Homo sapiens: one gene and its partner. The protein of the gene in region 2 purifies or fractionates together with the protein of the main gene of each other region. This does not show direct contact. Each region holds a gene or a part of one and is shown on either strand. Other genes may lie near its edges.

What was found. Proteins that work in one complex are often made in the same cells at the same time.
Region 1: the proteins of HDAC6 (region 2) and DNAJA1 purify together in Homo sapiens (affinity purification with mass spectrometry; 4 studies listed by BioGRID and IntAct, with this or other methods). This does not show direct contact.

Annotation. Positions count from the first base shown.
Region 1 is NC_000009.12:33,024,138-33,028,072, reverse strand, and holds the start of DNAJA1 (dnaJ homolog subfamily A member 1), read right to left. Parts: upstream 2,801-3,935; 5' UTR 2,690-2,800; intron 1,599-2,689; 5' UTR 1,589-1,598; coding exon 1,457-1,588; intron 1,261-1,456; coding exon 1,083-1,260; intron 1-1,082.
Region 2 is NC_000023.11:48,808,567-48,812,066, reverse strand, and holds part of HDAC6 (protein deacetylase HDAC6), read right to left. Parts: intron 1-3,500.

The DNA of each region.
Region 1 (3,935 bases), on a different chromosome or scaffold from region 2:
TTATATTGCTATATACTTTGTCTTTTTTTTTTTTTTTTTTTTTTTTTGAGACAAGAGTCTCGCTGTGTTGCTCAGGCTGGAGTGTAATTGGGCGATCTCAGCTCACTGCAACCTCCACCTCCCGGGTTCAAGCGACTCTCCTGCTTCAGCCCTCCTGAGTAACTGGGATTACAGGCACGCACCACCATGCCTGGCTAATTTTTGGATTTTTTTGGGTTTTTTGTGACAGAGATTCACTCTTGTTGCCCAGGCTGGAGTGCAGTGGCGTGACCTCCGTTCGCTGCAACCTCTGCCTCCAGGGTTCAAGCGATTCTCCTGCCTCAGCCTCCAGAGGAGCTGGGATTGCAGATGCCCACCACCACGCCCAGCTAATTCTGTAGTTTTGTAGAGATGGGGTTTCACCATCTTGGCCAGGCTGGTCTCGAACCCTGACCTCAGTGATCCACCCACCTCGGCCTCCCAAAGTGCTGGGATTACAGAATGAGCCACAGCACGCGGCCTGTTCTCATAATTTGTTTGATAATATCTAAGATTTTTGGAAGCAGTCATTTGCTACCACTCTGTTGGCTATTTTTTAGGCCCCTTAAATCTCATTTTAAAAAAAGCGACACCACTGGCTGGGCATGGTGGCTCACACCTGTAATCCCAGCACTCTGGGAGGCCAAGGCAGGTGGATCACCACCTGAGGTTTGCAGTTCAAGACCAGCGTGACCAACATGGTGAAACCCCATCTCTACTAAAAATACAAAATTAGCCGGGTTTGGTGGCACATGCCTGTAATCCCAGCTACTTGGGAGGCTGAGGCAGGAGAATCGCTTGAACCCGGGAGGTGGAGGTTGCTGTGAGCTGAGACCACGCCATGGCTCTCCAGCCTGGGCAATAAGAGGGAAACTCCGTCTCAAGAAAAAAAAAAAAAAAACCACAACAAAAAAACACGACACCATAAATCAGAGGCAATTTGTGGTCAGTTTGCAACATTATACCAACATGTAAACAAGCATTTAAAATGGGTGATTTCTCAAAGATCTGCTCTGACCAACAGCTAACTTTAGTTAGCTGCACAAAGACTAGATTCTTCTTACCTCTCCTTTCTCTCTGCATCCTTCCTCCTCCTCCAAAAAACATATCAAAGATGTCCATGGGGGAGCCAAAACCGCCACCTGCTCCACCCTCTTTAATTGCCTGTTCTCCTCCTTTGTCATATAATTCCCTTTTCTTTGCATCAGAGAGAACTTCGTAAGCTTGAGAAATCTGTTTAAACTGTTTGAGAAAAGAGGAGTGAATTTCATTTTTTAAAAAACAAGTGTTACCTAGCTACATTACACTTGATCTTAGCTAAAAAGGCCGAGAAGTGATCATAGTTACTATATTAGATACTCGATTTCAGGCCATAATAGAAATACTATACGTCTGGCAAAGAACTATTCAGATACGTTTAAGAGTAGATACTATTCACCTTCTCTCCTTCATTTGGGTTCTTATCAGGATGGTACTTCAAAGCCAGTTTCCTATAAGCCTTTTTCAATTCTTCCTGAGTAGCATTGGGTTTGACCCCCAAAACATCGTAGTAAGTTGTTTCTTTCACCATCTTCTACTGCCTGAAATAAGAAAATGCAACTTTAACCGGCTTTCAACTGGTAGCTTTTAATAAAAAAGAGAGCTAAGGCCGAGCAATCTCTTTGCAAAATCCGATTATAAGAACACCACCTTCCCTAAATTTCACCAAAAAGGTAACAATTCCTGCGATAATTCAGCTATAAACTCGAACAGACAAAACAAATAATCATTATCGGGAAATAATCTGAGAGCCGCCTTCTAGCAGCTGGTTCCAATTTTCCTACACCAAAGCTTCCATACTAATATAACACAACTATTATCTGGATTCTTCCCGTTTGCCCTAGAGGCGGTGACAGTTGTAACCAAAAGAAGCACTGATATGTTCAGTCTACCGGTCATTACACTATCACTGTCTTTGGCAAATCTGATAAACTCCATATACTCTCCAGAAAAAGACGTCTGGGCACACAGTGGTGGGGGGGAGTGGTTTATAGAACAGGTTACTGGCTCCACACAGCAAGCCCTCCACCGCCCACGGCTTACAGCTTCTCCAGCCGAATCCCTCTCGCCCCTCAGGCTGGCAGAGTTTACCTGCCAGGTTTCCCCTTGCACTTGGCGCTGACCGATTTCCTTCCTTTCTCCCTCCCACCCTGGACCCAAGTGGCGGTGGGGAAAGCCCAGCCCTCAACAAACAAAGGGAGGGGAAACAGAGAAAGCGAAACCAAAAGCCGCAGTCTCCGCCCGGCTCCCCCCGCAGCCCCTCGCCCCTGCCTCCCTGTGCGCGTGCGCAGGGTCGCCAACCCCACTCCCCCCCCCCACCCCGAGCGAGCACGGACGGGGAGGGGGGCCGCGGGGGCGCGCACGGAGGGGCAGCCGAAGACAGTAGCTCCTTGGAGATCCCAGGCTGGGGAAGGAGGGAGGTCTAGGAAAGGTCTCGGGCCCATTCACTGTGCGTGCCGGGGATGGGTTGCCAGGGCACCACACCAGCCCTCCAAAAGGGAAATCGTGGGCCCAGGAACTGACAGCGGTCCTACCCACGCGGCCAACTGCCTCCCGACCGCGGCTCCATCGGTTTCCCGGCGCCAATGGCGCCAGCCAGGGGACTAGGGGCAGCGCGAGGGCTCAAACTCACCGGTGCGGGCTGAGGCCGGTGTGTGAGGGAGCGGGAAGGAGCGCCGAGCTGTGCGCAGCCGGGGTAGTTACCGCTCCTCCGCCTCTCACCGAGCGTTCTGGAAAGTTCCGCCCGGCGCGCCGCAGCCGTCCTCTTTTGTAGCCGAACCCGGGCGCGTCACCCGCCGGAAGTCCCGCCCTTCTCGGCCGCTGCCACCGCCCCGCCGTTACCTGGGCAACGGCGCGGGGGCGCACGGGTCGGGAGGAGCTGCGCCGAAAGGCCTTGTGGGTGTTGGTGCTAGCGCGGCTTCCCGGCGCTCGTGGAATCTTCTGGAGCCCTTTTCTCCACTCAGCGAGCCTGAGAGTGCGGAAGTCTCCGGCTGGTGGGGCATGGCCCAGGAGCACTGCAAGTCCTAGGGTTCCCAAACCTGTGGGGTGGCCGCCTGGGCCCGCGAGGGCGGGAAGGGCTCGAGTACAGTGACCCAGCGGGAGCTGTGTGTGAACGGGAAAGCTCTTGGAACAGTCTTGCCCCCCCCCCCCCCCCTCTTACGGGCGCCTCTTCTCTTTTTGGGAACGTGGCGAGCAAAAAATGCTTGAGCCAGGTGGGTCTAGTCCCCAGACCAATAGCATAGGCCTTGGGTCTTGCTGTTTTTCACGCGTGGTCCAAGGCGGCATAATTAATCAAATTGTGAAGTTGTTAAGGCTTTTTGTGCAAGTCCAGGCCCCTAGACACATGTTATCTGCCCTGGACCTCGCTGATTCGTGCAGATTGAGCTCAGTGTGTCTGGGACTGAGCTAAACAGTGAGACGTTTGGACCGTCTTTGATGTACAGAGGGCCGTGGACTCCTCTGGTCAGGTTTTCACCCAGTTTGGCTACAGAGTAGCCGCAAGAGTGTCTGACTAAAACAATTTGTTTAATTATTTGACCTCACTTTTAAATCCTACGGGTCAGGGAACCTGGATGTACAATCTGCAACGTAAGACCTCGGACTTGAAAATGGTACCACGGGGGCTTAATGGGAATTGGGGTCCGCTTCTTTATCCAGGGACACAGCAGGTATGTCAGTATCTAGCACCAAGAAAGATGGAGTTTGCCACGCTCGGTGGCTCACGTGTGTAATCCCAGCACTTTGGGACGCCAGCGTGGGCTGATTGCGTGAGCTCAGAAGTTTGATACCAGCCCAAGCAACATGGTGAAACCCCGTCTCGATTTAAAACAAAAACAGAACTGGAGATGCAGAGTTGAAAAGCCCCAGTTAGACTTTAG
Region 2 (3,500 bases):
AAAATAATTATTGTTAATTTTCAGGTATTGATACTAAGGTAATGCTTTTCTAAAAAAGTGTACTTATGTTTTAGAGATGCATTCTGAAATATTTACAGGAGAAATTATATGGTATCTGGGATTAGCTTTGAAGGAAAACAGGAAGAGGGCAGTGGGTACAGGTATAGATGAAATGAGATCGGCCAATGAGTTGATAAATGTTGAAGCATTAAATTCCAGAAGCCAGAAATGAACAAAATAAAGAACGTCGGAGGAAAACATTAATAAAGATAAAACCAGAAAAATTAATGAAGTATTAAAAACCCACCATAATAAAACAGTAGAGATGACCAACAAAGCCCAAAGCTACACTGGAAAAGATAAGTACAACAGATACACTTTGGAAAGGCTGAGGGAAAAAAGAGATGTTACCCCAAAGAAGAGGCCTCCTTTGTTCTGACATCTGGCAGGATCCCATCTAATGCCCGGGTCCTTGCCCACACTCGCTAAAGTTGCAACCTGTCAGTGGACATTCCCTGTCCCCATTCTGGGGAAATGCCTTTCAGGAAAACAGACCTACAAACACTGCAGCAGAGTAGTCCTCTGACAGCCCCCTACAATGGGCCTTCATTCTTGGGTATAAATAGCCAAATAAGGATTGCTAGACATTTGAGGAAAACCATCAGCATAAAAGAGAAGGACCAAGAAAAAAATAATTCAACCAGCCTCAGAATAAAGAGACATAACTCAGACAACAGAAGAAACTTAAGGCACTTCCTTTTTTGAGACAGGGTCTCCCTCTATCGCCCAGGCTGGAGTGCAGTGGCATGATCTTGTCTCACTGCAACCTCCGCCTCCTGGGTTCAAGCGATTCTCCTGCCTCAGCCTCCTGAGTAGCTGGGATTACAGGTGCGCACCATCACGTCTGGGTAATTTTTGTATTTTTAGTAGAGATGGGGTTTCACCATGTTGGCCAGACTGGTCTCGAACTCCTGGCCTCAAGTGATCCACTCACCTCGGCCTCCCAAAGTGCTGGGATTACAGGCATGAGCCACCGCACCCAGCCGGCACTTCTAATCCATACTCTATAAAAACAAGATCAGGTATGAGAGGACATAGAAACAGAGAGGAAGAAAGAGCTTTTGGAGTTTAACAGGATATCTAAATACATAATTCAACAGAAGGGCTTGAAGATAAAGTTGACAAAATCTCCCAGGTCACAGCAAAAGAAAAAAGAGACAGAAAACATAAGATAAAAAATAAGAAGCCTGGGCAACATGGTGAGACCCCATCTCTACAAAAGATTAAAAAATTAGCTGGGTATGCTGGTGTGCACCTGTGGTCCCAGCTACTCAGGAGGCTGAGGCATGAGGATTGCTTGAGCCCGGGAGGTCGAGGCTGCAGTGAGTCGTATTTGTGCCACTGTACTCCAGTCTGGGCAACAGAGCAAGACCTTGTCTCAAAAAAAATAAATAAATAAATAAATAAATAAATAATAAAAAAGAGAGAGACATAGAGGATCAACCCAGGAAGTCTAACATCTGACTAACAGAAGTCCTAGAAAGAGAACAGAGAAAACAAAGAAGAAATTATCAAAGATCTAATAGAAAATAATTTCCAAGAGTTTAAGAAAAGCATGAATCTTCAGATGTAAAATGTCTACCTACTATTAAACAGAGTGAAAAGGCCAGGGTAAAAGTTTAGAACATCAAGGCTAGGTACAGTGGCTCATGCCTGTAATCTCAGTGCTTTGAGAGGCTGCAGTGGGAGGACACTTGAGGTCAGGAGTTCGAGACCAGTCTGGGCAATATAGTGAGACCCTGTCTCTACAAATAATTTAAAAAATTAGCTGGGTGTGGTGGCACATGCCTGCAGTCCTAGCTACTTGGGAGGCTGAGGCAGGAGGATTGCTTGAGCCCAGGAGTTTGAGGTTACAGTGGGCTATGATCATGCTACTATACTCCAGCCTGGGTGACAGAGTGATACCCTGTCTAATAATTTAAAAAAAAAAAAAAAAGAACACCAAGATAACCTTGCAGAGAGGAAAGTAGATTACTTGGAAAGGAATGAAAAGCAGACACCTGTCAGGAACACTGAATGCTGCAAAATAATAAAGCAATGTCTAGAGAACAACCAACCTAAATTGGATTCTTCAGATCTTGGATAAGTGGATTCTCTGTAGTCAGCTAGGAAGAAGGCTAGATAAAACTACTACAGGTTGAGCATCCCTAATCTAGAAATCTGAAATCTGAAATGCTGTAAAATCCTAAACTTTTTTTTTTTTTTTAGATGGGGTCTCAGTCTATCACCCAGGCTGGAGTGCAGTGGTGCGATCTCAGCTCACTGCAACCTCTGCCTCCTGGGTTCAAGTGATTCTCCTGCCTCAGCCTCCTGAGTAGCTGGAAATACAGGTGTGTGCCACCACGCCTGGCTAATTTTTCTGTATTTTTGTAGAGACGGGGTTTCACCATGTTGGCCAAGCTGATCTTGAACTCCTGACCTCAGGTGATCCGCCTCGGCCTCCCAAAGTACTGGGATTACAGGAGTGAGCTACTTCACCCGGCCCTAAAATCCTAAACTTTTTGAAGGCCAACATGATGCTCAAAGGAAATGCTCATTGGGGTATTTCGGATTTTGGGTTTTCAGATTAAGGATGCTCAACCACTAAGTATAATATAAATATTTCAAAATCTGAAAAAATCTGAAATGTGAAATACTTCTGGTTCCAAGCACTTCATATAAGGGATACTCGACATGTACTTAGTAATGTCTCCTACTGACAAGGACTTGCTCAATCACTTTCTGCAGGAAGGGTAAGCTGGTCCCCTCCTGGAGGGAAGTCTGGCAGTGTATACCAGACTTTAAAGTATGCTGACTCTCTGGCCCAAGCAACCCACTGTTAGAAATTCATCCTACAGATAGACTCAGAGAAGTGCAGAATTACATATTTACTAGACTATTCACAGTAGAAGTGCCTGTAATAGCAAAAACTGGCAGGCATCTTAAAAGTCCTGGGGTTAAATAACCAGAGGTACAGTCATAAAATTGAATACTACAAAGAACGAGATACTTTAAGAGGTACTAACATGGAGAAATGTCCCAGATATGCTGTTAAATGAATAAAGCAAGTTGTCGAAGAACATGTGGAGAATTATTCCATTAGGCAGTGTGTTATTAATAATTATAACAATAATAATAAAAATTCAGACATCTATAGAGAAAATCTGTAAGGATATAACCTAAACTGTCAACACTTATTTTTGAGGTAATGGAAATTAGAGGAGACTCACTGCTTCAGACACTTCTGTATTATTTAATTTCTTTAAACAAATAGTTTGTTATTTATTTATTTATATTTGTTTTTTACTATCTACTGAAAGGATAAACAAACACTTTGAAGCATTATCCTAATCAGAAAAAATAAAGCAGTAATTTGAGGTTCACTCTAACCCAACGGTTAATCAGTGAATAAGATCTTCAAATATTTGTGGGTCAAATCCCGTCTCTCCCAGTTCTTCTCT